Linked DNA regions of Homo sapiens: region 1 is linked to region 2. The links come from fine-mapping of genetic effects on gene expression. A gene starts in region 2. The other region holds a variant in brackets. All regions are shown on one strand. Distances are from middle to middle.

What was found.
Region 1: its variant is fine-mapped to the expression of NSMAF in whole blood (INTERVAL, PIP 0.95).

The regions. Positions count from the first base shown.
Region 1 is chr8:58,581,413-58,598,018 of GRCh38, forward strand. NSMAF (neutral sphingomyelinase activation associated factor) reads right to left here. Exons shown (of 31, transcript NM_003580.4): 20 at 16,448-16,490; 21 at 15,975-16,138; 22 at 14,148-14,247; 23 at 12,820-12,878; 24 at 9,455-9,522; 25 at 8,595-8,662; 26 at 8,040-8,163; 27 at 6,206-6,289; 28 at 5,046-5,196; 29 at 4,486-4,588; 30 at 4,240-4,349; 31 at 2,096-2,788. The coding sequence ends at 2,694. It overlaps SDCBP (syndecan binding protein), which reads left to right. Exons shown (of 9, transcript NM_005625.4): 9 at 274-1,446. The coding sequence ends at 328. It also overlaps the pseudogene RPS26P7. Among named protein-coding and RNA genes, the nearest start is that of SDCBP, 36 kb to the left of the region's middle. RefSeq lists enhancers at 13,215-14,414, 14,764-14,813. The variant T/C (reference allele first, on the strand shown) is at 8,954.
Region 2 is chr8:58,650,287-58,666,892 of GRCh38, forward strand. It overlaps NSMAF (neutral sphingomyelinase activation associated factor), which reads right to left and starts at 9,567. Exons shown (of 31, transcript NM_003580.4): 1 at 9,287-9,567. The coding sequence starts at 9,345. It overlaps LOC124902083 (small nucleolar RNA U13), which reads right to left and starts at 12,058; the gene lies at 11,955-12,058. RefSeq lists enhancers at 920-1,644, 8,007-8,570, 8,105-8,394, 8,571-9,133 and silencers at 8,845-9,294, 9,305-9,644.

The DNA of each region.
Region 1 (16,606 bases), 69 kb before region 2:
GTTTTTTAAAAATCACCATGTTTAATGCACAGGAATTCATTTGTATCCTAACTTCTCTAGCCAAATACAGATAGTCTTTCCCACTGAGTGTCTGTCAACAACTAGATTACCAGAGATGCTTCTGGACTCATTTAAAAGATCTTTCCCTTCTCTCCATTCATATTTGATGCTAACAGGTGCTAAATTGGAATTGGGAATTTTCTTGGATTAATGTAGCATTTTGAAAAACAAAAACCAGAATCTCGGTATATAATAAAAGTACCTCTCTTGTAGGATGGCACCAAGCATTATGAAAAGCCTAATGGACCACACCATTCCTGAGGTTTAAAATTCACGGCACCATGGAAATGTAGCTGAACGTCTCCAGTTTCCTTCTTTGGCAACTTCTGTATTATGCACGTGAAGCCTTCCCGGAGCCAGCGAGCATATGCTGCATGAGGACCTTTCTATCTTACATTATGGCTGGGAATCTTACTCTTTCATCTGATACCTTGTTCAGATTTCAAAATAGTTGTAGCCTTATCCTGGTTTTACAGATGTGAAACTTTCAAGAGATTTACTGACTTTCCTAGAATAGTTTCTCTACTGGAAACCTGATGCTTTTATAAGCCATTGTGATTAGGATGACTGTTACAGGCTTAGCTTTGTGTGAAAACCAGTCACCTTTCTCCTAGGTAATGAGTAGTGCTGTTCATATTACTTTAGTTCTATAGCATACTTGCATCTTTAACATGCTATCATAGTACATTTAGAATGATTGCCTTTGATTTTTTTTTTAAATTCTGTGTGTGTGTGTGTAAAATGCCAATTAAGAACACTGGTTTCATTCCATGTAAGCATTAAACAGTGTATGTAGGTTTCAAGAGATTGTGATGATTCTTAAATTTTAACTACCTTCACTTAATATGCTTGAACTGTCGCCTTAACTATGTTAAGCATCTAGACTAAAAGCCAAAATATAATTATTGCTGCCTTTCTAAAAACCCAAAATGTAGTTCTCTATTAACCTGAAATGTACACTAGCCCAGAACAGTTTAATGGTACTTACTGAGCTATAGCATAGCTGCTTAGTTGTTTTTGAGATTTTTTAGTCAACACATAATGGAAACTTCTTTCTTCTAAAAGTTGCCAGTGCCACTTTTAAGAAGTGAATCACTATATGTGATGTAAAAGTTATTACACTAAACAGGATAAACTTTTGACTCCCCTTTTGTTCATTTGTGGATTAAGTGGTATAATACTTAATTTTGGCATTTGACTCTTAAGATTATGTAACCTAGCTACTTTGGGATGGTCTTAGAATATTTTTCTGATAACTTGTTCCTTTTCCTGACTCCTCCTTGCAAACAAAATGATAGTTGACACTTTATCCTGATTTTTTTCTTCTTTTTGGTTTATGTCTATTCTAATTAAATATGTATAAATAAAGTTACATTTTAGTCTGTCTATTACTGCATCATTTGCTTTCACCAAACTTATGCATGATCTAGAAGACAGGCAGGTGAAATTCACTTTCAGCTGTGGGAGACATCATCTCCCAGAACAAGCTGACATTCAGGGGCCCTAAGAACAGCTCTCAGTGCTGAGACTGAGTGTCAGGAAAATTGCTTCCAGCTGGGAACCCCAGATTACCAGGGCCAAAAGAAGAGCTGGTTCACACCTGCCATGCAGCAGGAACTCATTGAGGCTACTGATTGTCCCTAGCAATACCTGAGACCAGGTAATATTTAATAACACTGAAACTGACTTTGGAAATTCTATTAGTGTGGTCTGACTCAAGTTTTTTCTCCTATGTCATACTACCTGCAAGATACAACAATGTTTTTAAAGAGTATAGAAAAAATAATAAGTCACACACTTACCATGGTTCAGAGGTTGAATATAAAAGGAAATCTGCTACTGCTATACAGCTTACCTTGTTTGAAATTTAGAAGAGAAAAAAATATTTGATTATCTACCTGAGTCTGAAGATAATTTCAAAATAATGGAATTACATTCATATCACTAAATATGGTTTTCTAGAAGATGATTCTAGACTTGTGGTCTTAAAAACACTAGTCTTTTAAGTTACTTAAATAAAGTGAAAACAGCTTTCTTTAGAGAAAAATATTTTTAATGTAGAAAAGATGAATAGCTGTAATGAAATACAAACCGTTCCTATACACAGTAAACTTACTAAGAACTGCTAATCCTTCTCCAGGTTCTTAGAATCTGGGTACAGCATTATAGAAAGTAACCACGCTATGAAAACACACACCCAAAACCCGATGGGTGGCAATTGTGATAGATTAGGAAGACAAAACAGATTCAGAAGTAGCAGAGAATACTGCACATTTTCTTGGAAAATTTCTTAATTGTTCAGTGCTTTCTGACAAGTTTCCCCAGCCCAATTTATCTCTTAGCTATTCTCTGCTACTTAGTCCTGTCTTCTGACAATCATCATACGGGGACGATCATCTGCCTTACAGTGTAACATGTTTTTCCTAACACAGCCGCATTTTATCTGCCCTAAGAGAATAGCAACTAATGGCTTTCAATGAAGTCACCATGATTTAGAAAGTTTAAAACCACAAATTTTCCATGTGGTAAAACTTCTAATTACTAACATTGCACATTCACCAGTCCGTTTAAAAGTTTGGTTTAAAAATGCATTAAATAGAGTTCAATTTAATATTCAGGAGAGGAAAAGGCACTTAATACTGCAATTTCCAGAATATAATTTGTCTGTCTTCCCCTCCTGTGATGATACTGCTACACTGTTCATTCATCCATATACATGTCACAGCACCTGAGAGAAAGACATTTTGGTTAGTTAGGAAGTTGACCAGGAGGCACCCAAAGATAAACTTTACTCTGATGCTTACTCTTGCTTTGCTATTCATTTACTAAACAAGTGAAGTAAGTTCTATTTTTTCTTGTCTGCTTCCTATAATAAAACCCTTGAATAAATTAAAAATAATTGCTTGGTACAAAGATCTTGTGAGGAATACTAAACCATTTAAGTGTAAATCTAAAGCTAAAACAACTGGGAATTATGGATATAGAACAATGCAAATAAATACCTTGGCGAAGTAAGTACAATACAGGTATAACATGACAAAAGTTGGGAGACAGATGTGAAGGAAAAGGTGGGGTTATTGGTGTAAGGTTATTGGTTTATTTCCTTTTCCACTGGAAGGGGTCAAATCACATTAAAGTTACTAAGTTGAGAACAAAAGTCACAAAGAATTTCATTTTTTTTGAAATAGTCTCGCTCTTGCTCTTACCCAGGCTGGAGTACAGTGGCATGATGAAGCTCACTGTAGCCTCTGTCTCCTGGGCTCAAGCTAGCCTCCCATCTTAGCCTCTTAAGTAGCTGGGACCACAGGCGTGTGTCACCACACTTTTCTAATATTTCTGGTTTTTAGTAAGAGATGAGGTTTCGCTATGTTGCCAAGGCTGGTCTCAAACTCTTGACCTCCCACTCTGGCTTCCCAAAGTGCTGGCATTACAGGCCTGAGCCACTGAGCCTGGCCCAGACTTTTTAAGGTATACATTTAAGAAGAACCATATGAAGTCGAGTGACACAGGGAAGAGAATGAAGGTAGGAAGTTACTGCTTACAGTGGGAACTCAAGGGATAACAAGAGACACTAGAAGAATTAAAAACCAAGTCCTCCAAATGATCAGAAAGCAAGCAAGAATTTGTAAGCAAACAATCTAGTGAATCTCCAAGAAATATTACCAAATGAAAAACATGGGCAGAACAGTTTATTATACTTCACATAAACAATTTAATACACATATACCCTCTCTTATTCACAGGACACACACTGGTAAAGTACTGTAAGGAGGACTGGGAGGTAGGAGTCAGCGGTAGAAAGAAGCCTTAATTTTCATTGTAGTTCCTATTGTATTGTTTCTGGGTTTTTTTTTTTTCTCTTTTTTTACTATTCTAAAAATTTAAGATCATGCTATTACCTTTAAGAAAAATAATAGCTTTACGATGGTTTTTAATTCTCCATATGAAAGTTAAAGACTTCCTTTTTGGAGTCCAATGGCTGTTAACATAAATCTAAATCCTGAGTAACCTACGAGATGCAGATCACCTGGCCAATCAAGAGGCTCCAGGGACATGTTTACGACATGGAAAAACCATGGGTGTTTTTTGCCCAAAAAGAGTATGTTCCCTGATGGAAAAGGCAGGCTTGAGTTCATTATCTTGAGAACAAAGATCAAGGCAACTGCAGTAGCTGCTTACCTGTGTGGCCCTGTATTCTCTCACTGATTTTTGCTCCAAGGAGGTCCCAAACGAGCAGTTCACCAGACTGACTGCCAGATAAAACGGAATTTCCATCCCAGACAAAGCACCTGCAAGAATGATTTAGAAATAGTCCTTTCTTCATCATGAAGGAAGGATATGTTGAACTGGCCAATGTAAGCCCAAATGAAGTGATCATGAACATGTCTGTAAATGTCTTCGCCCCCAGTAACTCACAAACTATACCTCTGGGGCTCATCTGATGTCATGGAGGAGATGAGCATTCCTGTCTGCACATCAATGACATTAAGACAGCCATCTGTTCCTGTGCTGAGGACATGGCGACTATCTGCAACACAAGGTGAGACTCAGATATGAGTGACAGCTTCAGAATGTGGTTTACATTATTCTGGATTTTATTTCTGAGTCCAGTGGCCTAATCTCCACATTCGTTTTCTTCAAAATCCTTGTACTTAAGCAATGACTATCCTCTCCTTGAAATGGTTCTAGCCCTTTCCAAGATGTAAGGATGAGATGACCCTTTGATTATGAGTTCATTTTTATCTTAAATTAATTTCTCTAATGAGGAATTAAAAATACCCAGTCCGGCTTTTCTACCTGATACAAATGCCACAAGTATACTGTACCCTGGCATAAAGCAGTGTTAGCCATTGGCAAAACCTCTTTTATCAGCAAATAGTGTTTTTCTTTGTAAGTTTTATTGTTTATTTCAAAATTAACAATATTGTTTATTTCAAAATTCCAATTTACCTAGTATTATCTGTTTTAAAAAGGATAATATCTACCTGGGCTAAAAGCAGTGTCACATACAATCCCTGAATGGCATGGAATCTGGTGCATTAAGGTGGCCGTTGTGAGGTCCCAAATATTCACTGTGCCTTCTTTGGTGCCGGAAACTAACAGTGTGCTTGCAGCATTTAAACTGATTGTATCTACCTAAGGAAGAAAACACATTGATACATATTCCATTAGATTTATGGTCATTAGCTATGTTTCTCTAGTCTGGTTCAAATATGTAGTCATCATGATATAAATTAAACTCTATTGTGCAGTATGCCGGTGTTGCTAATGCAGATGTATTTCAACATCATCCTACGGAATAACTTATTTTAAAAATGAAATTAAATTCTTTATAAGCTAGGGAATACAAGAAGAAATGAAGTATTGCTAAAGTAAAGGTAATGCTGTTTTAAAATAGCTTAAAACTGACAGTCTCAGAAAGATAACTCTATGAATAATAAATTATAGTGAGCCGCCAAAGTGCCTGAAGCACAGCCAGTCCATGATTATTTGAGGGATTTGTGGGAGTGGCGGAATCTCTCGAGGCTATACTTGCACATCATCATGAATTACATACTAAATATTTCTCAAACTCAGCTAATCTGAAGACCATGGAAATTAGGCATCAGTTCACAACCTTAGAGAAAAGGCAGTACTGTCAACTACAGCATAAGATGCAGCAGCGTGACCCAGAGAAAACAGAGCAAGTGAGAACTGAGCCAACAGGCTGCATGTACTTGACCATCCCAGACAGCTGGTCACTGTCCCCCACTGTTGGATGGGTGTCTCCTGGACAGATGGTTCCCTTCCAGCTTCTGGATCAGAAAACATGAAGGATCATAGGCCCTATCTTGTTGCCCCAAAGAGTTTGAGGGTACCAAATATTCAACGTCCTGCTCAGAAACTACTATTTTGGAATTCTAGTTGGATGGTAGCTAATTCTCAGGGAAATGTGCAAAGAAGTAACTTGGAGAAAAAATAAAACAAAACAAAGTAGACTTGGAAACCTAAAGAGTCAACACAAAGAAAAGAACTGAGATTTAGCCTATAATCTTCCATTAACCAAATAAAGCAAAACAACATGAACAAAACCAAAAACCTTCTTCCAGCCGAACCCCTAGACTTTTAAGGTCAGTTTTCTGTACAGTTTGTTGCTGGTACTCACACTGACATCATGTTCCAGCTCGGCCAGCAAGTCAAAGTGGTGTCTTTTGGTGCCTGGCATCTCTGCAGGAACACCAGACCACACCTAGGATGGAACATATTGCAGAAGGTATTTTCAAACATTTAACAAAAAGTCATTTTCTAGTGCATTCAAGAAAAACTCCTATGCTCAATTTCCATTTAACAGACTTGCCAATAAAGTTAAGCTGCACAGTGCTCCAGCTCCTCCTCCCTATGCCTGCACTTTCTCCCACCAGCATGTGCTTGCTTACTGTCCCTTGCTTGTACCTGTGTGTTTCTATCACCTGCACTTGCTGCTGTAATCGTGTGACTTTAGTATGTGAACTAAGGAAATATGAGTGTAGAAGTATTACAGTGTCTTGAGAACACTATTAATGTTTTGGGAAGACCAAAAAGGATGTTACCCCCAAAATAACTAAAAATAGGTACAGGCAAATAAACTTATCTAAAAGAATGGAAGAAAAATTCTGAAAAACTCCTGGAGGAATTCTAACAATTTTAGGTTCTTGCTTTCTTTTACACCAACACAAAATAGAAACTGAAAATAATGAAAGCTGGCGTGGTTTGTGTAAGATTTCAAAGAAAAGACTGAACATATTCCTACATCGAAAGAATGGTGAATGAATGAGCATTCAGATATTTTCAGTTTAAATAAAATGTGTCTTTTAATGATTCCTCACTTTAACTTGACATTTTCTTTTTTTTTTTTTTTAAGTACAGTTTCCATTTAATTTTTCTCCAGAGAATAGCCTGTCTTCAGTCTTTAAGAACTCAGCTCCTTACATGGGCTTTGGTGGGGGACGTGGGGCAGCACCCGCAGGTCTAAATTGGGGTGGGGGTGTTCGGTCCTTGCAGGCTTCACGAGATCGATTCCTGACTACTTTGCTGTGAATTGCACAACTCACACAGTAATGTAGCTTCACATACAGCTTGGGAAGCAAATAGGCATCAAAGATGCTCGCTTCAGAAATGTCCCTGACTGCTGCGGCCTCCACTATGTTTCGAATGACGAATTTCTTAATGGCCTTGTCCTTGGGCATGCATCGGGCACAGTTAGTGCAGCGAATAGGCTGCACGTGGCCGCGGCCCTTTTTGGCACGACCATTGTTCCTTCTTTTCTTTGTCATCTTGGAGGCACGGACCGGAGAGAGCTAACTTGACATTTTCTAATTAACTATAATCAACTAATATTTCTGATCATGGCAGATGAAAGGGGCTGCTACTATACATTTCTTTCTAACTCTGCTATTGAATGAATGCTAGACCATTCATCCCACAATGGAATACACAGTACAGAAATCATGATAAACTTATTATATTAAGAAGTGGCTATAATTCCCACTACTGCACTCTAGCCCCAGCCTAGGTAACAGAGCAAGACACTGTCTCTAAAAAAAATAAGTAAATAAGGAAGTGTTTTTTTTAAACAAAAAATAAAAAGAATGTACATATCACAAAGTATGTGATACGTAAGGATATTGAATGTTATTGCCTGTGTTTAAAAAATATATAATATGTATTATATAAATAAAAATATATAAATATATGTAATATATAACAGATATTATATTTTAAATATAAATAATATATAAATATATATTATAGATATATTTTATATGTATTTTTTAAACACAGGCAATAACATTCAATATCCTTACACTCACACGCTTTGTGAAAAAGAGTGGAGTGACTGAACACATTAGCAATAGGTAGTTGAGTGGCTTATAATATCTGTATGTACATTTTAAGCTAAAAATTATACATATGCCATATAGCACACCAAGTTAAAAAAACTTTTTAAATTATATATGAACCTTCACTGTAGAGTCCCACGATGCAGAATATAGCCTGTTGTCATGCCAACAGATCTTACTAACAGCATCATCATGTCCCATTAACGTGTCCTGGCGTCTTCCAAATGCTATGGAATAAAAATAGCTAAAAGATAATGAGAAGCATTAAAACAGTAGTCTGGCTTAATTTTAAGGCTCCTAAACATATATTAAAGAAACATTATGTTGTTTCATTCTATACTTACTAAGGCTCACTAGAATTACAAATTGCTTGTTCTCAAATTACTAAATCAAAATATTCAAAATTTGAATTTAAAATTAGAAATTTCCATGTCTGGCTCATCTGTTTTCTCCTCAATTTAAAACTTAGAGAAAAACAGACTCCAATTGGAGAAATTATTCAATCTAAGCAATCATATTCAAATCCAACCATACTGTCCTCATCTCTAATATCTGTTCCCTTTAGAAAACAGTGCTGTGTCCTGGCAGGGAAAGCTTCTGGCTTTTCACACCTCATGTCCACAGAGGCAGCTATTCTGCACGTCGAATCACAGAGCAGGGTGCACAGATACATACACATTATTATCCCATGAAGAAGTTATGACAGTGGCATCTCCTGGTAAAAGTAAACAAGACGATAAAGCCTGAAATACAAATGATTTGACGTTAACAATCTATAATAATTAGTAAGTCTCTAACACAGTAAAGCTATCTTATACATTTCCGAAAAATTAATGCTCAAATCGTCTTTATGTGGCTCTCCTCCTATTTACGCAGATTTTCTCAACTGGCTAATTCCAGCTGTAGGGTTTTTTCCCAAATGCAGGAAGGAATGTCCATGTATGTCAAGGGTATTTACGACCTAGCCTGATGACTCTCCAGGGTCCTGCCCTGGGCTGGAAGAAGCCCACTCACACTCTGGAGTAAATCTCCAG[T/C]TGGGGGCAGACTGGGGATGATCCTCAAGAAAGAAAATACCCCCTCTGGACTACAGACTTGTGTGGGTAAGAAAACCTTCCAAAATTCTTCAGAGAATTTCCAGATCTTTTGCATGATTTACATTAAAAATAAAATGTGTTCTTTCAGAAGAATTGGTTTTGTCATATTAGATATCCTACCAACTCAGAGATGCATAAATTAAGTAGCACATAACATTTAGTCTGACAGCTAAAAAAGGGAGAGGTTTATTTAAGTAGAATTCTACTGGGTAGCTCTCCAAGTATTTTAAGCTAAAAATGAAATCACAACAGTAAGAGAAAGTGGTAACCTGAAAAAAATTTTACATTGAAATTAGAAGTAATCTAACTAAGGTATCTGGTAGATTTACTACACAGGAATAAACTCAATTGTTTTGGGAGAAATAAAGTATTATTGTATGGGTGTGTATAAAACAAACTACTACACGGATTTCTATCATAATACTATTAAAATGAACTCACCATATTTGAAAATGATATACTTCTTTGTAGCATTTTTGATTCTTTAGAAAACATCTTCAAGGTGGAATCTAATTTAATAATGAGAAGTAGATATATAAGAAAGATTTCCTAACCATTACAGACGTCAAAGAACAGCTGCTCTTCTTGTTCCTGGTGGCCAACAGTACACTTTATACTCCAAAGTATAATCTTATGGAAAACCGAATGTAAACAGAGCTAGATGACCTAAGGCCTCATCCAACATTAAGATTCTATGACCTGTAACCCCATGACAAAAACATCAATTTAAAAATCCAGCACAGACATGGTAGGTATACTGTTGACATTTCAGCATGACTGCAGGCAGAAATGTGGTAGCTGGTATATGCAGAAAGTTACAGGGAGGAAAATAGCAATTTTAATAGTAACAATGAAACAGTAATTTTAATACTAAATAAGACAAAAAGATCTTGGCAATATGTTTTCTTTAAAAAAACTGCCCAATTATATATAGTTAAGTGTGATACCCTTGCACTGAACATTAGTTATAGAAGGGAACCACTGACTTTCTAAATAATAATAAAGTAGAAATTAAAAATCCAAGCATTTAATTTTCTTGTGTAACAGAAACCTTCCTTTTTTTTTTTTTTTTTTTTTTTTTGACACAGTATCACTCTGTTGCCCAGGCTGGAGTGCATTGGTGTGATCTTGGCTCACTGCAACTTCCATCTCCTAGATTCAAGCAATTCTTGTGCCTCAGCCTCCCGAATAGCTGGGATTTTTTGACGTGCACACCACGGCTGGCTAAGTTTTGTATTTTTAGTAGAGACTGGGTTTCACAATGTTGGCCAGGTTGGTCTCGAACTCCTGGCTTCAAGTGATCCGCCCCCTTCGGCCTCCCAAAATACTGGGATTACAGGTGTGAGTAACTGTGCCCGGCCTCAAAACAACCTCTTAAAACCCAAGACTCACAAATTACAAGGCTCTAATGTGCTTCAGACATCCTATATTTGAGATATGTAACAATCTATTTTCTAACTTACACAACGTGATGTCGGAATGATCTTTAAATAATTTCTTCTGCACAGTATAACTTAATAATTCAACCCAATTTTTGCAACCCCAACACACAGAATTCCTGACAATTTATAAACATGAGCCTCAATAAGATATTCTTCAGCATTAATTTGAAAACGAAAACAGAAGAATGAACACAGTATCACTTGAACTTTCCCCTGAGCAGTATAATTAGATCTGATAGTCTTCCCAACCTTGCTTTTGATTCTCTTAGGCAATTCTGAGCATTCACCACAAAATCTATTTAAGATGATTAATTTGAGACATCCTACAAAAAAAACCAGAAACCAGTCGGTTCTATAAAGATGTTTTTCTCTCCTTGATGTCTAGTGGTTAGGATTTGGTGCTCTCACTGCAGCAGCCTGGGTTCATTTCTCAGTCAGGGAACCAAAAAAATGGAAAAAGAAAATAATAAAAGAAAAAAAAAGACGTTTTTCTTGAAATCAAGGATCCCCTGTACTAGAGGTCATCATGTTAAAGACTGCAGTAAAAGCTAAGCTCATAAGTGGTGGGTTCTGTGCCTGCCCACATACCTAAACATACTGTATACTAGAAGAAGATATGTAATTTTGGGGTGACCATCAGGATACATATAAATCAGTAATATGAATTATGAAAATCTAAATATGAGAAAAACAAACAGAAAAAAACAAAAGCTTTTGACTTTATTTTTAAACTCTCTCGGCCGGGCGTGGTGGCCCATGCCTGTAATCCCAGCACGTTGGGAGGCCGAGGCAGGTGGAACACCTGAGGTCAGGAGTTCAAGACCAACCTGGCCAACATGGTAAAACCCCATCTCTACAAATATACAAAAATTAGCCAGGCACGATGGTGGGTGCCTGTGAACCCAGCTACTCAGGAGGCTGAGGCGGGAGAATCGCTTGAACCCAGGAGGCGGAGGTTGCAGTGAGCCAAGATCGTGCCATTGCCCTCCAGCCTGGGCGACGGAGCAAGACTCTGTCTCAAAAAAAAACAAAAACAAAAACAACAACAACAAAAAAAAAACCTCTCTCTCCTTTATTGTGAAAATCCACAGAGGAGTGACATAATGCTTAATAAGCCTCAGTGGTTTGAAGCCACAACGCTCATCAAATTCATGGTTAACAAGGTCATACAAGTACAACTGTGCTGAACGATTTAACAAGCCATCCCAGACAAATCCTGCTAAGAACACAGGTTTTGCTTAAAGATAAAGCACTTTGTCTGAGGCTATAATTTTTGGCAAACTCCACAGGTAGAAATCCTGGCAAAATACAGATTGCTTCCTTCTATCAGAGAAGTGCCTCGGTGACCCTGGCATGGCCCAGTTTGGGAACTGCACATGAACTTCCTTTTGATCTACTGTGTAGAATCACTTCTATGCTTTGTGGAAAATTTTTTTATATACAATCCAAGACAGTATTTGAAAAAGAACAGAATGAAATGCTACAGATCATAAACAATGATAACAGAATCTGAGAGTAGTAATTCTGATTTTCCTGAAAGTGTTTAGTTGGATAGCACTTTGTCTTAATGAATGAAAAATATAATCTCCTATGATAAAGACTAAATAACGAGTAGCCTTACTTTATAAAGTTACAAACTTTGTCAGAACAAGTTGTTTTCTCATGGAAGCAGGAAGCAAAGATACTACCCTTCCATCTCTGCATCTTCCAGAGTGCCAACACAGTGCTCTCAACATGACAAGGCCAAGACATACTTTAATGAATAATATATAATGCAGACTACCAGGGAGAGAACAATGGTGTATATAGTAAGGGATGCTTTCTGCTTTACAGCTATAAGTCATATCAATGACACACTGCAAGGGTTTTTATAATTTTGATAATGTATAAGCATATTAAATAATACATGAATTTGATTTTGAGCTAAATCAAATATCCCGAAGAAATATACACTGAATGACAAAACTGCAAACCGTAACAGCAAATCTGCATTTCCACGTGCTGACAGGCACACATCAATTTCTGATACAGCACTTGCTACTCACAGCCAACCCCAACAAGTGGACAGCGCACCTCTCATGGGCAGGCAGGAAGTGCCTGACCCAGCAAGGGTGTGGAAAGGAGGCTGTTTCTGTCCTCTATCCTCAACTCTGGGAAACCTCATCAGCAACAGAAAGATGTTTCATTATTATTTTTGGCAAATTACCATGAAACTCTATGTAATGTACCACAAAGGAACTGCTCTAAGTTTACTTTATGTGGAGGCAGCACATGCAAGTGCAGTCCTTGACCACGAGCTAAATAATAAAGAACTCAGACATTCTAGGATTTTGGTTAAGCCGCCTTTCGGGGAGGAACACTGACCTTGGGATGTTGTGAATACTGAAGATCCATTGCGAGAGACCGTGATTCCAGTAACTGCTCTGCTCAAAAACAAAGTTTCACAAATTACTACTCATCATGTGTTAGGATACCCTCTTTGTTTCATATCCTTGATTTAATTTTACCAAGTTTCCTTAATTTTTTTCTTCACAGCATGTCTGCCGGATCTGTCCCAGCATAAACCTGCCATTACCAAATCACTGCTTGGCACCTTCTAACGTTCTGGCAACGCCTGTGGCTAGAAAACATCCCCACTCTTTGCTTCCCTGTGTTCCACATGCAATGCTTTACATATTCCTGACAATTTCTGGCAATTGGAAAACTCTTCTCCTTCTATTCCCCCTCGTTTGACCATCACCAAAAGGACAAACTCTTCTTCACAGTCACTTCACTTGCTGATTACTGAAGCTAATTTACTCAGTGACTATTCAATGATGAGAAAATTGGTTCCAGCCTGTCCTCTTAAAGGATCATTCAGTCTTCACTACCTTGGATTACAAGGTCCCTTCCTATGTGCCATTTAGAGAAGTTGAGAAAAGACAGCCATTGTCATCATGAATCAGCCAAAACTCCTTGTTTCTCTTCGGGAGGCTGGACTGTGATGTGAAGCCATCCATCTAATGCACAGCAGTATGCCCAGCTCCACCCATGACCTGTATGCCGGAGGGGCTGTCTGTCGTCATGGAGCTAGGTGGGGCCTAGTCTCTGGACCTGGGTTTCCTCTCTGTAGCAGGATGAACAGGCTAGGTCAGTGCTTCTCGAGCCTTTCTACCAGAGAACATGAAGGTCTTAATGAGAGAGGGCAGAGAACACACATATCATCTCTGGGTCCAACAGCAAGCCCAATTTCTTAGAAGCATAATTATTTTTAAAATTCATGTGAACTTTGCAATGTTCTCTGGGAGAGCTAATTTTTTTAAAAGGTGCCTTTTCACCTACATTATGTGTAAATCCAACACTCGTGGGGTATACATCACACTTCTCCCATCAAAGATTCAAGGAGCTGTGTACTCCAATTTGAGAGGCACAAAACTGGCTGCTCTCTGCCGACCACATCTTGTACTGTGAAGTGACAGACTGCAGAAATGACAGCACGGTAGCCACCACAAATCATTTCGTGCCAAACTTTCCCTACTACATCAACCTCAGGTGGAGATCACTATAGACATTTTGGGGAGATTTTTAAAAATAAAGACAACATTGAAAGGGAATTTTCCCTCTGACTCAGCTTAAAACAGTTTAATCCCATGCCAAGACCCTAACTTTTACCAGGACTATCAGCTGCTGAGAAGAAGCAGAGATATTCTTACTCTTTGTGGATTTTATAGTGCTCGTGTAACTGCAGTTTGGTGATGTTATTCCAGGCCAGTGTTTTGCTTTCTTCGGTCAGGTCTTCAAAAGACTCTTCACCTGGAGAGACGACATTAAATTTTTGCTAAGTCAACTAAGTTACCAACAGACAACAGCATCAGATTAACAATATTTTCTATTAAAATCAAACAACTAAGAAATGAAACACCCTGTCACAATATAACTGCTTTGAAATGTACCTGTTAGATGGTTCCACGTTAGTCAAGGAAAAAATTGTATAGAGAAAGATAAAAAGTATCTTTGAATAATACTAGAATCTTTTTATACTTTAACAATGTTTGCAAAGTTTTCACTCGGCCTCTAACTTATGAATTTGGGGAAATACAAGACTGAGTCATCATTTCCTTGTCAACATTGTTTCAAAAACCTGACAGTTGCCTAAGAATGCAACAATTTTGTTCTGGTGTGGGGTGGGGAAAGCAGAGATGAAATCAATTACCGCAAGGGCTTCTGGCAGGAGTAATCCTTTTACTTCTGCTTTAAGAAGGGCTGAAACAATTACCATCTTAAAACAATCACATGACAGTGGTTACAGCCTGGTGACTAAGCAGAGTGCAGTTTGAAACAGCATCACAAGATAATCCTGTGATCTTCATGATTTAACCCTCTAGAGTATTCTCTCTTAAAGAAGCTACCCCTGGGTCATGTAACTCCAGGAAGCTATTTCTCCATGCTTGAGAGAATGCTCATCTATGTATGCCTAAAATGTCTGGATGTCCTTGGAACAGACAGGAGGATAGGAGATAAAAAGTGATTTTGCTCCCAAAGCTCCACAGAGTGTCAACCTCCTTCTGGAAGCCTGTAGGTTTGAAGTTGTCTTAGGTAAAATCTAAAACCTGGGTAACTGGAGAAAGGTGAGTGTTCTTTCCTACCTTTCCAAATATTAGATGTGAGAACTGGGTCAAGTTCAATTTAGTGCCTAGCACATGCCCAGCGCAGAACAGATACCCTGTAAATGTTTGTCAAATGTTAAATAAGTGAAATCCAATGAAGAAGAGAGAGCACTTTGAATTCAAGATGTATGTGGGGCCGAGCGCGGTGGCTCAGGCCTGTAATCCCAGCACTTTGGGAGGCCGAGGAGGGTGGATCACGAGGTCAGGAGATCGAGACCATCCTGGCTAACACAGTGAAACCCTGTCTCTACTAAAAATACAAAAATTAGCCGGGCGTGGTGGCGGGCGCCTGTAGTCCCAGCTACTCAGGAGGCTGAGGCAGGAGAACGGCGGCGTGAACCCGGGAGGCGGAGCTTGCAGTGAGCCGAGATGGCGCCACTGCACTCCAGCGTGGGGGACAAAGCAAGACTCCGTCTCAAAAAAAAAAAAAAAAAAGATCTGTATGTGGGTATAGAAGAGCATAATTAGGGCCAGAGAAAGTCCCTTCTGGAAGACAGCAGGGCTGACAGTGACTGGGAAGGCAGACTGGACAGCTAGGACTGTAAGAATGAAAAGGCAAATAGCTAAGGATCAAACACCAGCTTCAAAACCACAGAAGAGAAAGAGAACCACATCAAAACATATATGGCCAACTTTCACTCATATTCAATTGCCAGAAAATAAAAGCGATTTGATTTCCCTTACAGTCTATAGCTGAAAACAAACAACATCAGCAAAAACAGGTATCTGTTTTCAGGAGAACTGCAATAAGGCAGGAGAACACAATCATCTCTAAGTAGCACAACAGTATACGTCTTATCTCCTCTTCAGAAACATTTTCATCACAGAAGAGAAACAAAAGGTGCTCACGTTTATTCTCTTTACAAAATTTACCTGGGGAATCTGCCATAGAAGCATTATAACTGGAGGTCTGGGACAAACTTTTAAACTTTGGGGTGATCCTTCGAGGATGTGGTGTCACAAATAGTTGTTTTGGTGTCTGCCCAAATTCCAAGATTTGCGTAAGCATGGCTACCTTCTCATCAGGATCCTGGATGCTTTGGGACAGAACACAAATAATGCAGTGAACCACTAGGTTCGAGTTCCTTGAAAGCACGCATTTCAAATAGTACTGATCAATAGGAGGGACTAACCCTCAAATAATGACAGCAACTATGTACCAGGATTGTCTAAACCTCATTATAGACCTTCAGAATATTTTCTGATGCTCAGTAACACAACAGTGAAAGCAAGATAGAATTCATTTTAAAATTTCCATACCTCAACCTTCAAATAAATACATTAATAATTTAGATAAAGACATATCTTATAACTCAAGTAGAAACTCCTTATTGACATATAAGTACCTGTTCAAGTCTACACCTCCTTCATAGGTCAGGGGATGAAATACTGAAAAAGACATACAAAACACTATTGAAAGATGTGCTATTTCAATGTAATATACACTGTTTAGAACCTAAACAATGCAACAACTTAAAACTCATGTTCAAAGAAATTGCTATTCA
Region 2 (16,606 bases):
TTTTTAATCTGTACCATTTTTCAAAGGTTCCACTCATTTGGGGCTTTAACCTTTTTGAAATTAACTATGTATAACCTTCTTGTTTTATATTAAAACTAATAATTATAAACTCAGAGAAATACTACCTGTACAACCATTCTTTATTTGCTAGCCTGATTTTCTTTTTCTTTTTTAGCTTCCTTCCAACATGCAAGCTTGCCTGATTTTCTGTAACTCCTCACAAAAGATCATTTGGATTAGATGTTCTTAATTGTATTTTTGACAGTTTCACAAACTTCCTGGGTCAATATGCTTTCCAAACTGTCCAGTAACAGCACCTATCTTTTTTGTTCCTTGGAACTTTCAATATCTGCTTTCTTAAAATTCTAGGTTCTATGTATGACAGGATCCCTCTCAACTCTCCTGAGCTCCAGCAATAAACAACTTGATATGACTGCTTTTTATGATGGTTCATTTCATTGCTACTTGGTTAATAATTTGTCTTTAATATTCAGAATTAAGTAAAGTTCTCAAGTTTAGGATAAATTAAAACTTTAAGAAAGGAAGTCAATAAACTGTACTTAGATTTCACTAAGCATTTCAGCCAGTATCTCTATTGCCACTTCCTGTTTTCCCATTTACACCAGGTACACAGCCACCATTTCTTCCACCCACTTAACGTGGCCTGTAACAAAAGAACACAATCATGTTATCTTTGTTCCTCTTTCCAATTGTGTTCTCTGGGATTTTTTCCTGGGGTTTCATGGATTCCCCTTCAGATGTATACCTTCTTAACATTCAGAGCCCACTGCCTCACCTCCTGGCAGGTCTTTCCTTTTCAATAGGTCTGCAGCTTTTCAACACTAGATTCCAATCTTGGGTCTCATCTTACCCAACTCCAGTGACACCTAAAACACACATTAATCCTTTTTTGTTAAAAGACCTGGCTCATTTTATTATCCATGTTCTACACATTTGCAGAGAGACATCTGAGGGACTAAGTATCATTTCTAGTTCCTGTACCAGTTGTTTTCTCCTATAAATTACTGGCCCTTCTTCCCTCCCAGAAAGAGTTCTCATGAATTTAAACAATTTCACTATTTCATCTGGCCTTTTTAGCCCTTCCCCTCAGTAATTAGGTTAAAGCTTTCTATCACTCAGCTGGACTCTAGAAAATTACATTCTCCCTGACTATGTGAGATGCAGTGACTTCCAGCCAAGATGGTTCAGATATCAAAATCCCTTTCACTGACACCATCCATAAAGCCAGTCAATTCTATTTTCAAGTCCCAGCAATTTATGAGAAGAAATGGTAAAAATGTCATCTATGCTCTCAAAGTCCTCCAGTTTCCTCATCAAGTGTCATACTGCAGGGCAGGAGGCTTCCCTCAGCCTTTTTATATGTACTATCAAGAAGTTAAAGAAGGAAGTTCAGTTGGAAGGAACAAACAAATAAAAAATCAAGATGAATGCTGAATTACTGTTATCTAGCGCAGCGCTTCACAAAGGTTAGTGTGCACACAATCAACTGGGGATCTTGTTAAAATGCACATTCCAAGGCAGCAGCTTCAGGGTGAGGCCTGAGAATGTGCATTTCTAACAAGCTCCAGGCACACATGCGCTGCTGGCCTGTGGACAACACTTTGACTAACAAGATTCTGATATCTACATAAAACAGGCTTCATTCATTCCTGAATCAGTCTAAACTTCAAGGATACCATAAAAATAAGCACTGGCCAGTAGCCCACAACCTAGTATTTAAAATAGAAGCAGTATGGTACAGTGGAAAAGAGGTTGGACTTGGATCAGAGAACATTTGTTCTAGCCTTAGTTCAGCTTGGCTCCAAATTTTCCAAAACTTTTAGCTTTAGGAAGCTCAAGCAGGATAGATGAAGAAAAAAAAATCTATATCTAGACAGCAAAAAACTACAGAGAGGAGATCTTAAAAGCAGTCAGAGAAAAGAGAGATTACCTACAAAGAACAATTAGACTTAACAATATTGGTTTGTTGCAGGCTGGTCTCCCAGAAGAGAAGGTGGCCTCCTGCAAAGTTTCAGGGAAAACTGCTATGATTGTGTTTAAGGCAATCAAACCTCATCAACCACAAGGCTTGAACCCTGGTCCCCTGACCATGCCAGGAAAAAGGCTGGTGTTTCCCCAATCAAGAACAAACTCTGCCACATTATACAGACTTAGCCCCAATCAAGCCAGCAAGGAGGTAAGGATATCCTGCAGCCACACATGCTGAGCTGGGATGAGTGAGCCAAGGTTCCATCACAGTATGGTCCTACTGTACTCTGGCCCCTGGTCACTCCCTGGAGTGCTGGTTTCTCCTGAAGTCTGAAGTTGGCCCAGCCAGGTAGCTGAACGTTACCCCAGGGGGACAAGGCACAACTATCACTGACCTTTCTCTGTGAGGTACCCCCCCAACACCCCAGAGCACTCCAGCAAGTCTGATGCATATTCCCTGGCCCTTTGCCTTTGTTTGGATAATCTTCAAAATGCTGAGAATTAAACATCTAGCAAAACGGATTTTCAAAGCAAAAGGAAAATAAGGATATGTTCAGACAGACAAAAACAGAGGTGGTTTATCATCATCCAACCCTGATCAGAGGAACTTCTAAAGGATATTCTTCAGGAAAGAGAAAATAATTCCGTAACGAGGATATGACATGTAAGAAGGAATATTGAACAAAAACAATGGTAAATATGCATGTAAAACTACAGAAGCATTAACCAGGCAATTAGTAATGTACAATCTGTAGGTTTAAAATAGAGATAAAAAATACCGGACAATAACAGACTATAACTGAGGATGGGGGCACAGCAGTTAAGTGTTCCAAGGTTCTTACACTGGTAGAGAGGAGAGTAAAGATAATGATTAGCTTCAGATCTTAAATTTAATATGCTTATGTTTTAAGGATAAGCATTAGAAAAACAAATAAAATATATAACTTCCATACTCTTTGGGGAAAAATGAAAGGGAGCAAGGGGGCCTTATTTAATCCAAAGGAAGAAGGGAAGGAAGGCAAAATAAAAGAACAAAACTAAAAAATAAAAGTGAATTCAGATATATTTGTAATAATAAATGTAAACAGACTAAACTAATTCATTAAGATAAAAATTATCAAAATGAATCATTTAAAAAAAGTCCAAGTATAAGCTATTTATAAGAAACAGGCCTAAAGCCTTAGGACACAGAATAGTGAAAAGTAAAACAATGGAAAATCCCATACAAAGCAAATAACCAGAAGAAAACTGATATAGCTATATTAATATCAGACAAAATAGAAAAAAAATTACTAGAAGTAAAGAGGTCATTATATATTGATAAAAAATTCAACTCACCAAGAAGATAACAATTCTAAGTTACTTACTGAATACAAGTTAAAAAAAATAACAAAAAGATAATTTTCAAAATCTATGAGTTGGACATTTTAAGACACAATTCTAAATATCTGATGGTTAAAAGATGAAATGACAATGGTATTTAGAAGAAAAATAGCACTGAATTCCTTAAATGACCATTCCTATTTTATATCACACTAAAAAAATTTTTAATGAATATTATATAGCTTACATACTCAAAATCCATTTATGGATAGATTCCTGTGACTTCTCAATGGTAGACACTTTGGAAGAGGTTAATTTGAGATAAAAGGAAAGTAAGTGGGTAGGCTAGTAATACATTTTGGGTAAAGTCAATATAGAGTCTAAATTAACCAAGAAATTTGCAACATTTATTTCCTCTCCCGCTGTTTTTCATGTGAGAAAAAAAAACCCTATTTCTTTAAGTCACAGTCGGATAGATTTCTTGGGACCTATCGGCATTCCTGACGAATTAAGTCCTGACTTTATCTCCACTGATCTCCAGTTTCAACACCTGGTATATCCCACAAACAGATCTGAAAAGACTGGGATGATAAGCCTTAGAAATGAAAGATTAAACCGAAGTACCACAATCACTTTGCCCTCTTGCCAAGTGCTTTTTATAAAATAAATATAGACACAATTGATTAAACAAACATATTGAGTAAAAGAAAGTTGGGCCGGGCGTGGTGGCTCACCTGAGATCGGGAGTTCGAGACCAGCCTGACCAACATGGAGAAACCCCATCTCTACTAAAAACACAAAATCAGCCAGGCATGGTGGCGCATGCCTGTAATCTCAGCTACTTGGGAGGCTGAGGCAGGAGAATCGCTTGAACCCAGGAGGCGGAGTTTGCGGTGAGCCAAGATCATGCCATTGCACTCCAGCCTGGGCAACAAAAGGGAAACTCCTTCTCAAAAAAGAAAAAAAGAAAGAAAGTTAATACTAGCATAATCAAGAATATTATACACTCATGGAATGTCTGAAACAAAGTTGAAATCTCAAAGTGCCTGTTAAACTATTAATGTAATATGCAGGCACCAAATACAGAATTCAAGATCACTAATTTCCATCCTTGAGTGGAAATCTGTGGAACTTACAAAGCACAATTAAGAATTTATTCTATGACATTACAGAGATAAAACTATGACTCTTCCTCAGAAGGAAACATATCTCAACTATCTAAATTTCTTTTCTATTATGTATTTATTTATTTTTGAAACAAAGTCTCACTCTGTTGACCAGGCTGGAGTGCAATGGCACAATCTCAGCTCACTGCAACCTCTGCCTCCCAAGTTCAAGCGATTCTCTTGTCTCAGTCTCCCGAGTAGCTGGGATTACAGGTGTGTGCCACCACACCCGGCTAGTTTTTTTTTTTATTTTTAGTAGAGACAGGGTTTCACCATGTTGACCAGGCTGGTCTCGAACTCCTGACCTCAAGTGATCCACCCACCTTGGCCTCCCAAAGTTCTGGGACTACAGGCATGAGGCACCACACCTGGCCTATTTATTTTTTAAATAGAGAAAAGGTCTCCCTATGTTGCCCAGGCTGGTCTCAAACTCCTGAGTTCAAACGATCTTTGTGCCTTGGCCTCCCAAAGGGCTGGGATTACAAGTGTAAGCCATGGCACCTAGGCAAGTATCTAAACTTCTACATTACCCAAGAAATAGCTGTCATCCCAACACTCCACGGTGGATAGTAAAGCAAAAAAATTTAACAATTTGCCTACTTTAGTCTACTTCTAAATCATAAAATAGAAATGTCTTTTTTTTTTTTTTCTTTGCGATAGGGTCTCACTGTGTCACCCAGGCTGGGGTGCAGTGGTATGACCATAGCTCACTGTAACCTTGGACTCCTGGGCTCGAGTGATCTTCCCACCTTTTAATATATTTCATATTAAAATAGAAATGTCTTAAATAGAAAGTCTGTATAATATCCTCATCTACTAACCCAATGTATACACCTGCCATCCCTGACAAATCCAAGGAAGACATGTGAATTGCCTTTAACGCCTGTAATCCCAGCACTTTGGGAGGCCGAGGCGGGCGGATCACGAGGACAGGAGATCGAGACCATCCTGGCTAACACGGTGAAACTCCGTCTCTACTAAAAATACAAAAAATTAGCCGGGCGCTGTGGTGGCCGCCTGTAGTCCCAGCTACTCGGGAGGCTGAGGCAGGAGAATGGCGTGAACCCGGGAGGCGGAACTTGCAGTGGGCTGAGATCGTGCCACTGCACTCCAGCCTGGGCGAGAGTGAGACTCCGTCTCAATAAAAAAAAACAATAAAAAATAAAAAATGTTTTCAATTTACCCTCACCAACACCTGCACAGGACATTTTTAAAAAACAATAAAATCAATATGGTTCCTGCTATCTAAATCTTTTTTTTGTTTGTTTGTTTGAGATGGAGTCTCGCTCTGTCGCCCAGGCTGGAGTGCAATGGCACCATCTCGGCTCACTACAACCTCCGCCTCCCAGGTTCAAGCAATTCTCCTGCCTCAGTCTCCCAAGTAGCTGGGACCACAGGCGCACGCCACCATGCCTGGTTAATTTTTGTATTTTTATTAGAGATTGGCCAGGCTGGTCTCGAACTCCTCACCTCGTGATCTGCCTGCCTTGGCCTCCCAAAATTTGGGGATTACAGGCGTGAGCCCTGTGTCTGGCCTGCCACCTAAATCTTAACCAGGATATAAGTATACTTATTTCGAATGGCCAAGTGTCTGTTTTCTAATCCTTAAAATTACCAAAACATTTATTTATAAACATCAACAATAAATGGCACCACTTTATAGTTATTCAAACCAGAAGTCTGAGAGTAGAATTTCCATGTTTAGCAAATAAAAATATCATATGCCCAGTTACATTTGAATTTCAGATAAATAATATACTTTTAAAAATTTTAGTATAAGGGCCGGGCACGGTGGCTCACGCCTGTAATCCCAGCACTTTGGGAGGCCAAGGCGGGTGGGTGGATCACGAGGTCAGGAGATCGAGACCATCCTGGCTAACACGGTGAAACCCTGTCTCTACTAAAAATACAAAAAATTAGCCGGGCGTGGTGACAGGCGCCTGTAGTCCCAGCTACTTGGGAGGCTGAGGCAGGAGAATGGCGTGAACCCAGGAGGCGGAGCTTGCAGTGAGCCAAGATCACGCCACTGCACTCCAGCCTGGGCAACAGAGCGAGACTCTGTCTCAAAAAAATAAAAATAAAAAAAATTAGTATAAGTATATACCAAATATTGCATATACTATTGCATTTACTTATACTAAAAAAATTTTAGTATAAGTACATACCAAATATTGCATATACTATCGCAATTACTTATACTAAAAAATTATTCATTGTTTATCTGAAATTCGAACTTAACTGGGTGTGCTGTATTTTATCAGATAATCCTAGCTGGAATTCTTCCTTTATCACCTCTCACAGACAATACACCACACCAAGACCTGTCAATCACACGTCCTAAAAACATCTAGAATCCATCCACTTTCCTCCATTTATTCTGCCACCACCTTGGTTTAAACCACCAATGCAAGAATCTCCTAGTCAGTCTCTATGCTTCTGCTTTTGCAGGAATATCAAAGTACATCAACCTAACAATAAGAGAAATAAATGCTCATTTCAAGTTTCTTTTCTGGGGTCAATATTTGGTAGCTCTGGAAATCTAAAATCCCTTAATTAGCATGAGAGCCGCCAGTGAACTTACAATGAACAGGTTGAGGCCTCTCATGGGTAACCTCTGAAACAACCCCTCTTCAAGTTTTCCAAGAAAAGTAACAATTTTCCTGGGTATGCTGGAGCCAATGACGAATCCAATCCATTTGCTAATTTGTGTTTATTGATGCAAGGGGATAAACCCGGAAAAATCTGGGCAGAAATGGTAAATTTGGGGCTTAATAAAGTTGCCTTAAAATATTCCTCTGTTTCAGAATGAATTCTAAGATTTATAAAAGAGACTCCTTGATTCCAGTGCATACCTGATGTGAGACAGATTCCTGTCATTCAAATGCATATTCTATGCATTGAATGGAGTATGCCCATCAGCCCAGGTTGCAAAGCCATGGGGCAGAGCACTAAACAATTTGGGCACTCAGCAAGTTATAATTCAAATAAATATAAAACACATGGCGCCAACTTTTTCAGATGACTGATGCTCAGGAACAGTTGATGCCTCCTGACTGGATAGATAAATGTTTTGGTTGCCAAGAGCTAGAGTTCTCTCTGAACACTGCCAGCCTATCACGTTGTTGTCTAATCAATGAATTCTAACAAAGCAGCATATACATGGAAATGCAAGTACAGGTTTCAAGGTTTGTGTGACACCACGGAGCTGTATGAGCTAGCCAAATTGAACACAAATTACTTCATCGAAATAACAGCCAGAACCAAGGAAAAAACGTTTCCCTGTATATCAAAAAGGCCAATATGAGTATTGGCACGAATGACTCATATCATACAACATGATGCCAATTCAAGTGTGTCAAAGTTCTCACAATTTAAATATGAATGTTCACCCACTCAATACAGAGCACCAACAAGTCTTAATATTGTTGGTACTAAACAAAGAATCTCCACTCAAGCTCTTTCCACAAGAAAAATGCATTACAAATTCAGTCAGAAGGGCATCCCCAAGTGTGAGTTACATAGTTAGGGCTCAGTTATTTAATAAACAACCCTTTCTGTGACTAAAACCTAATCACATCACCAAAAACATTTTTGAAAGCCATATCTGAGATACGTTTTCTGTGTATCGTATCTTCTTCTCTACAGTAGAAAAATGACATTTCGTACTGTGGACACACTGGTTAGACCAACATTACAGATTAGAGAAAGATGAATGTCTGGATCAAAGGGGTCGAGTCAACCCTTATAAAACAAGTGTAGACAAATCTTGAAGTCTGCACTTGTATTCCCACGTGTAACCTGCTTTGCTGGTATTCACTGATGAGACAACGTGACAGGCTAGCAGCACTGGAAGATCTGTGGCTCTCACAATCAAAACAGTGTGTCTGTAAAATGATTCAGCCCCCCTTTCCTTTTGGCATCTGAGCTGCAGACCGAGCAAGTTGTTTCTGTCACCAAAAATGCCCTGGGAACTATACATAGAGCCGAAGTGAGCTTTCTTATGAGACTTCCCTTGGGGACAGGTCCAGCATATCTGAAAGGGAACTGCTGTGAGACCATTTTAGCTCAAGGGATCCCAAATCCTTACTGGGATGCTGGTGAGAATGAGTGCTCCGCTGCCGCACCGCGATTTCGACTGCAAAGCTTTCCAACACAAGGTCCACTGCGCGGGGAGCAAGTGTTTGGGAGGCAGGACCTTGGCTTTCCTCAGAATCAGGCCTTTCCGGCGGCCCCCCTCCCAGCCTTCCAGGGCATGGAGCTAGTCCTGTGTCTAAAGGAGTCGGCAGGAAAAAGGCGCGGCAATGCGAGTGGGTGGTCGCCGGCCTGCTCGGTGCCGCCCGGCGACCAACTCTGCGGCGCCGGCGCCGAGTGCCTGGACCCGATTAAGGGGAAGGATTAGAAAGGGGGTGCCCGCCGGGCAGCGTACTCACCCTCCCCTGCGAACGCCCGGGCTCGCGTGCCGGGATCCACGCCCGGACCCCGCGCGGCCTTCCGGGTGAGCTGCCCGCGGCCGCCGGGACCTGCACTGCCGGATAGCTCGGCATGCCTCGGCTCCGCGGTGGAATCTGGCCTGGCCCGTCATCCAGTTCCTGTCCCCGGCAGGCTCCGGCCCAGACCAGGCCCCCGGCCTCTCACCCCGACCTCAGGTTTCCGCCACAGCCCCCAGCCCAGGCCCTGGACACGCGTCCGGCCCCTGCCTCCGTGCCCGGCCCCCACGCCGCCTCCCGTCCCTCAGATCTCCGGCCGGCGTCCCCACGACCGGCCCCGACTAGGCCCCCGGCTGGGCCCTTCTTCAGCTGGGCGCGCACCTCTCCTTGGAGTAGAGCTGCAGCTGCTGCTCCTGCTGCTTCTTCCGGATAAACGCCATGGAGGGTAGGCGCGGGCGGGCGCAGAGCGCACAGGCAGGCCCCGCCGCCGCCTGCCGAGGAGGTCCGGAGGAGCCGGGGAGGGCGGGATTGGTGGCCGGCTGGGGAGCGCGCGGCTGCCGGCCTGGCTTCCCCTGCGGCGCCGCTGGGCGGCCGAGAGCCCGACGCGGCGTCCCGGCCGCGCTCACCGCAGCATCCTCGCGTGGGGACTCCGGCGGCACCGTGACTCAGGCCCGGAGGAGGGGCGCGCGGTGACACGAGGCGCCCCAAACTCAGGCCGCCTCAGAGGATCGCCAGGGCCAGCGGCCAGACCAGGATCCGACCTCACACACTAAACGTTTCACCACTTTACCAACCATTGCAGGCTGCGTTTTAAATATTTTACGCATAAAAAGGGATGCTGGCCCATAAACCACCAATCTGTTGGCCACAAAGACTTGAAATAACAACGTTTTGTGTCCTCCATTGTGAAAAAAAAAAAAAGACGGAAGTTAAAGGGGTGAAGGCAACTCAGTCGTAACTATTCCAAATACACCAGGAATAAGTGGAGATTTATAGCCAAGGAGCAAGGAGCAGGTGTTCGGAAAACTGCTAAGAGGAAACATCAATTCTGGGGGAAATTCTGGCTGAACCAACCTAACAGGAGTCCCAGTGAAGGCAGGCCAGGGGGTCAGATACTAAGGGTAGGAGTAAAGAATTTTGATCACATATGGAGGGTGGGGGATTCTTGCTAAACTGCCGTGGCAGTGTTACTTCCTAACACTGCATTTACAAGGAAGTGCACACAAGGACCTGGGAGAAGATTCAGAAGCCTAACTGAAGTTTGGCCAAGCAAAGAATCTTTAACACAGTCTCTTGATTGTTGAGATAATTGCTCGCATGATTTTTTTTTATATAACAGCTTTATTGGGATATAACTCACATACCAAACAAGTCAACCATTTAAAGTATACCATTCAGCGATTTTTAGTATATTTCCAGATATGTTCAACAATCACCACAATTTGAGAACATTTTCATCACATGTAAAAGAAACCCATACCCTCTAGCTGTCACTCTTCCTAACTCTACCCTCCAAACCCCAGCCCTAGCAAACAATAATCAATTTCCTGTCTCTATGGGTTTGCCTATTCTGGATATTTCATATAAATGGAGCCATACAATATGTGGCCTTTTGTGTCTGGCTTCTTTCATTTAGCGTAATGCTTTCAAGGTTCATCTATGTTGTAGCATGTATCTGTACAGTACTTCGTTCCTTTAGATTGCTGGAGCATATTCTGTTGCATTTTGTTTATCCATTCATCAGTTGATGGACATTTCAGTTGTTTCCACATTTTGGCTATTGTGAATAAGGCTGCTGTACACAGTCATGTACAGTTTTTTTATGGACCTATGTTTCCATTTCTGTTGAGTGGAATTGGAATCTAAGAGTGGAATTGCTGGATGTGGAGGCGAAAGCAGCTCCATCTTGGAAGCTAATCCTCCGTGTTGACTTCTGATTGACCCCAGTTCTGGGAAGGCCTCTAAGATTTCTACTTTATCTATTGTTCCTTGTGTAAGAGCAGGTATCTACCCAGTATGTTCTGTCCTTAATTCAAACAACTTGATGTTATTATACTTCAATTGTCCTACACATCCCTTCTGAACCACCCCTCCCCTATGGTATATAAGCCCTAAGGGGCTGGAGTGATGGCTCATGCCGGTAATCCCAATGCTTTTGGAAGTTGAAGCTGGAGGATTCCTTGAAGCCAGGAGTTCGAGACCAGCCTGGGCAACAAAGCAAGACCCTGTCTCTACAAAAAATAAAAAATAAAAATTACCTGGGTACAGTGGCACACACCTATAGTCCCAGCTACTGGAGAGGCTGAGGCAGGAGGATTGCTTGAAGCCAGGAGTTCGAGACCAGCCTGGGCAACAAAGCAAGACCCTGTCTCTACAAAAAATAAAAAATAAAAATTACCTGGGTGCAGTGGCACACACCTATAGTCCCAGCTACTGGAGAGGCTGAGGCAGGAGGATCACTTGAGTCCAGGAGTTTGAGGCTTCTGTGAGCCATGATCGTACCACTGCACCCCAACCTAGGCAATACAGAGAGAGAGAGACCTTATCTCAAAAGAAAAAAAAAAAAAAACATTGAGTCTGGGGGTTAATAGCACAGCAATCCACCATCTCATCTTGCTGCCCAAGACACAGATATGGACATGGCTTCTGTTCCTTAGTCGCTATTAAATGTTTCTTCCCAAGGAACTTTATTTGTCAGCCTCTTTCTTCCACCTCCCGGCATCCCAGGACTTTGAGATAGATTTGTATAGGCCTGCCCACCATGGAACTGGGTCATATGGTAACTCCATGTCTAAATGTTTGAGAGACTGCCAGACTGTTTTCCAAAGTGGCTGTACGATTTAACATGCCCACCAGCAGCGTAGAAGGGTTCCAGTTTCTCTACATCTTTACCAGTATTTATTATTACCTGACTTTTGTTTAGAGCTATTCTAGTGGTATGAGTGGTATCTCAGTGTGGTTATAACTTCTTAATATATGCTGAGAATGAGCCTCTGATTGTTTACCTTTGAGGGATTCTTGAATAACACGCCTCTAAGTTTCTTTTTCACGTTAAACAGGTAATGTGCCAAACTCGTAACAAGGTTCAAGGGCGGCACATCACACAGCTGCACATGAACACCCAATCATCACACTTATGAACTACAAAAGGATCCAAACCTCTAAATTGTATGCTTGTGGAAACATATCTCATACTGTCTTAAGGATCAGGTTTTGCAGGGTTACATTTTTAGAAGCTTCAAGGTAAATGTACATCTCAGCTTTCTCTAGTAAGTCGCAGGACTGTGAAGAGAAGGTAGGGAAACCAAGAATAAAAGTTGTGGCTGGGTCTTTTGAATTTGACCCCTAGCAGCACTGGACAAAATGCTATGTATACTGAGCACACCCATTAAAAATTTTGGGAATGAATGAAGGTGCCTGGGTACCCTTTGACTGTGACTGAGTCCCTTCCACGTGTCCAAGTGCAGTGCAGAACCTGTAACACATTAGGTCAACATTCCTGGAGGAAATTGTGATGCTGTCTGGTAGCCAAGAAATAAATACATGAGCAGGTACACAATGAAATAAGATAATAAAATTTGTCAAAAGGTACATGATAAATTTCTTTATGAGAAGTACTACAAAAGGTTCTGTGAGTTCAGAGGAGAGATTAATTTGGCTGGAATAAGGAAAAAACAACAACAAAAACCCAGAATGTAAGTTATCTTCTTGAAGTTAAACATTAGAGGAAGATTAGATGTGATCGAATAGGCAGAGACTGTTAAAGAATCTCCTTAACCCAACTCTAGCCAAATTCCTCTGAGCCCACTTCTCAACTAGGCCTCAACCTTGGCCTATAAAAACCAGACTCCCAGCACGAATAATTTAGTCCAGTCCCCATCCCCCACATTAAAAGACTTAAACAAACAAACATAATTTCTAACAGCTTGAGGCCACATCCCTAGCATAACCCAGCCCCACTTAATGTACCTGTCTGAGAAAGCTCAAAGCAATTAAAAGAATTTACTACTTATGCCCGGCACGGGTGGTTCACGCCTGTAATCCCTGCACTTTGGGAGGCCAAGGTGGGCGGATCACCTGGGGTCAGAAGTTTGAGACCAGCCTGGCCAACGTGGTGAAACACCATCTGTACTAAAAATACAAAAAAGTGGCCGGGCGTGGTGGCGGGCACCTGTAATCCCAGCTACTTGGGAGGCTGAGGCAGGAGAATCGCTTGAACCCAGGAGGTGGAGGTTGCAGTGAGCCGAGATAGCACCATTGTACTCCAGCCTGGGTGACAGAGGAAGACTCCATCTCAAAAAAAAAAAAAAAAAAGAATTTACTATTCATTCCAGCCAACATCTGACACAGGCCCCATCTGATATAGTAAAGCCAACATCTGACATAGTAAAGGGTGTACTCTGACCACCCTTTCTTAGAACATTTACCAAAAAGGGCTTACAATTGTGAATCACTCCTCTGTCCCTTTAAGATGTATATGTGTCTCCTACAACTCACAGTGTCTTTCTCAAGGACCTGAAATCTATTCCTTTGAAATGTAATCATTAGGAAGTATAGGACCTTGTCTTACAGGCTCTGTGAGAAAATAGAATCTCAACTTCAATAATGACCAGCTAGCGGACACAGCTGACCTAATCACATTTACACAGACCATTCCTTTCTAGATTTTTAATTCCCTTACTCTATTCAGCCCGATTTCCCCTTCCCTACTCCCTCATTTTCACTTCAAAAATGTCCGTCCACCTTTGCACAAATCAAAGTTGAATTCGTGCTGACTCCTGACCCCTATTGCAATAATGTATTACTGATTAAAATCTGTCCTTACCATTTGAACTAGTGTCTGATTTTGTCTATCTTTGGCAGAAAGAAGGGAAGAAACACAATCGAAGGGATTGTCTTGAACAATAACTCAGAAGAGACACGCTTCCTTTTTAACAGTTTGTGTTCGTGGAGAATTGAGAGAACTGAGACTGGAGCTCCCTCATCCTCCCCTCACCAAAGCATCCACCCTACTAGCATCTGCCCTCTTATGCTTTGTCTTCATTTCTGCTATTTTAAGGTATATTTGCTCCTATCAAAGGCCAACTTCTCCTTTCTTCCCAACAATTTAGCCTTTGCGATGACCCTTTCTTCTTTCTTTTTCTCTCTTGCTTTCTCTATTTCTCTCTCACTGTTGGATCATTTCTATTTGAATATAAATGTAGTTTTCAAAAAACTTTCCCTTTATCCTACATCTCCCTCCAACTCCCCATTCACAGAGGAACTTCTTGAAACATCTGCCTATACATGCTGCTCCATTTTCTCACCTTGTGTTTTTTTTTTGTTTTTTGTTTTTTTTTAAGTTGGAGTCTCGCTGTGTCGCCCAGGCTGGAGTGCAGTGGCGCAATCTCGGCTCACTGCAACCTCTGCCTCCCGGGTTCACACCATTCTCCTGCCTCAGCCTCCTGAGTAGCTGGGACTACAGGCGCCCGCCACCACGCCCAGCTCATCTTTTGTATTTTTAGTAGAGACAGGGTTTCACTGTGTTAGCCAGGATGGTCTCGATCTCCTGACCTCGTGATCTGCCCACCTCGGCCTCCCAAAGTGCTGGGATTACAGACATGAGCCACCGTGCCCGGCCTCACCTTGTGTTTTCTGGAGTCCATTCCAATTGGACGTCCAGGCTAGATGTGGTGGCTCACACCCATAATCCCAGCATTTTGGGAGGCTAAGGCAGGAAGATGTCTTGAGGCAGGAGGATGGCTTGAGGCAGGAGTTCAAGACCAGCCTGGGCAACATAGTGAGACTTCATCTCTACAAAAAAATTTTAAAAAATTAGCCGGGCATGGTGGTGCGTGCCTGTAGTCCCAGCTACTTGGAAGGCTGAGGTGAGAGGATAGGTTGAGTCCAGGAGTTTGAGGCTGCAGTGAACTCTAACTACACCACTGCATTCCACCTTGGGTAACACAGCAAGACCCTGCCTCCAAAAGTAATAATAATTGGACTTCTATTTCCACCACTCCACTGTAATGGTTCTTGTCAAATCACTACATTCATTGATCACTTTTCTAGCTTCATCTTTCTGAGCTACCAGCAGAATCAAATGTAGTATAACATAGCATTTAACGTATCTCCTCACTGGAGGGCTTTGCTCCCATTACTTCTGAGAGCCCACAGTTTCTTTGCTTTTCTCCTACCTTGATTCTTTCTTCTTGTCAGTCTCCTTAGTTGGTTTCTCTCCTGACTAATTTCTTAATGTTGATTCTCTGTACTCAATCTCCAGGTAATTTCAACTGGTGCCATGACAGAGGGCTGTTGAGAAAAAAATTTCTGATACAGTTTGAGCTTCCCAAATCAAAAAATTCCAAATCCAAAATACTCCAAAATCCAAAACTTTTTGGGTGCTGACATGATGCTCAATAGAAATGCTCGTTGGAGCATTTTGGATTTCAGATTTTTGGATTAGAGATGTTCAACCAGTATGTATTCTGCAAGTATTTCAACATCCAAAACAAAATTCTGAAACCCAGAATATTTCTGGTCCCAAGCATTTCAGATAAGGGATACTCACCCTGTAGTAGCACATTCTTTTCTTACCTGAAGAAAATGGGCAATCGCCATTCCCTTACACATGTTATGACTGCCTTCATGCTTTTAAGCTTCCTGTCCTCTCTGTCTAAAATGCCTTCCTACCTTTCTACCACCATTTCTTCCTGTGAAAATCCTACCTGTCCTTTAAATTCCCATTCAAAACTTATTTGAAGTCTTTTTAATGCACCCAAGTGGAATTTATCTCACATTCACTTACTCAGTACATATTTATTTCACATCAGTGTATGTCACGCATTCAGCTGGGCATTAGTGGGTAGGTGCCTTTGAGACTATGGTTGGATAGGGATGTGAACAGTGACCCCATTTTACCTTATAAGGCCTATCTCCCTCTTTGGGTTAGAATCTCCTTGGGAACAGAAACAGTGACTTGTTGGTCTTTATATCCACATTGCCACTAAATACAGTGTCTTGCACTTAGCAGTTGCCCAGTAAATGTTTGTTGAATTGAATATTGTGCTTTCTTTTGTCAGCATGTGTATCTATTTTGATTTGTTATACTGTAAATAAAAGAAAACTCAGTCAATAGTTGGAGTACATTTCCTCATCATTGGCATGGATGGCACAGATGTTAATAGAAGCCTGACTTTTCTCTTAGACTTGTAGCCTTTTGATCACAAGATCACGTTCCATCACCATGATTGTACTTAGCTTCTGAGGAGAAATAAGGAGGAAGGGCAGGGCCAGCCTTGTGTGTTTCTCTTATTAGTAAACCAAAAGCACTCCCAGAAATGCACACCAATCTTCCAGGCCAGAATTCTTGCATAGCAGCAGTGGAGACTGGGCAAACAAGTGCTTCACTCTTACAGCCTCAATATTGCCAAGCCGCCAGGCAGAAGCAGGTTGGGAATGGCTCCCGGGTCAGTCAATCTGCAACGTGTACCCCATTACTAAAATGAAAACTAGCCAGGAATACATATTGATACTTATTCTTAAGGAAGATGACACCTGAGACTATTATTTTTTTCTTTACATCGTCTTCATTAAAAGGTATTGACTATTTATTGTATGCCAGGAAATGTTCTAGGTACTAGAGACTCAGCCATAAATGATATGAAGTCCTTGCCCTTTTGGAACTTACCTTCTGGTAAGAGTGACTATTTAAAAAGTGAA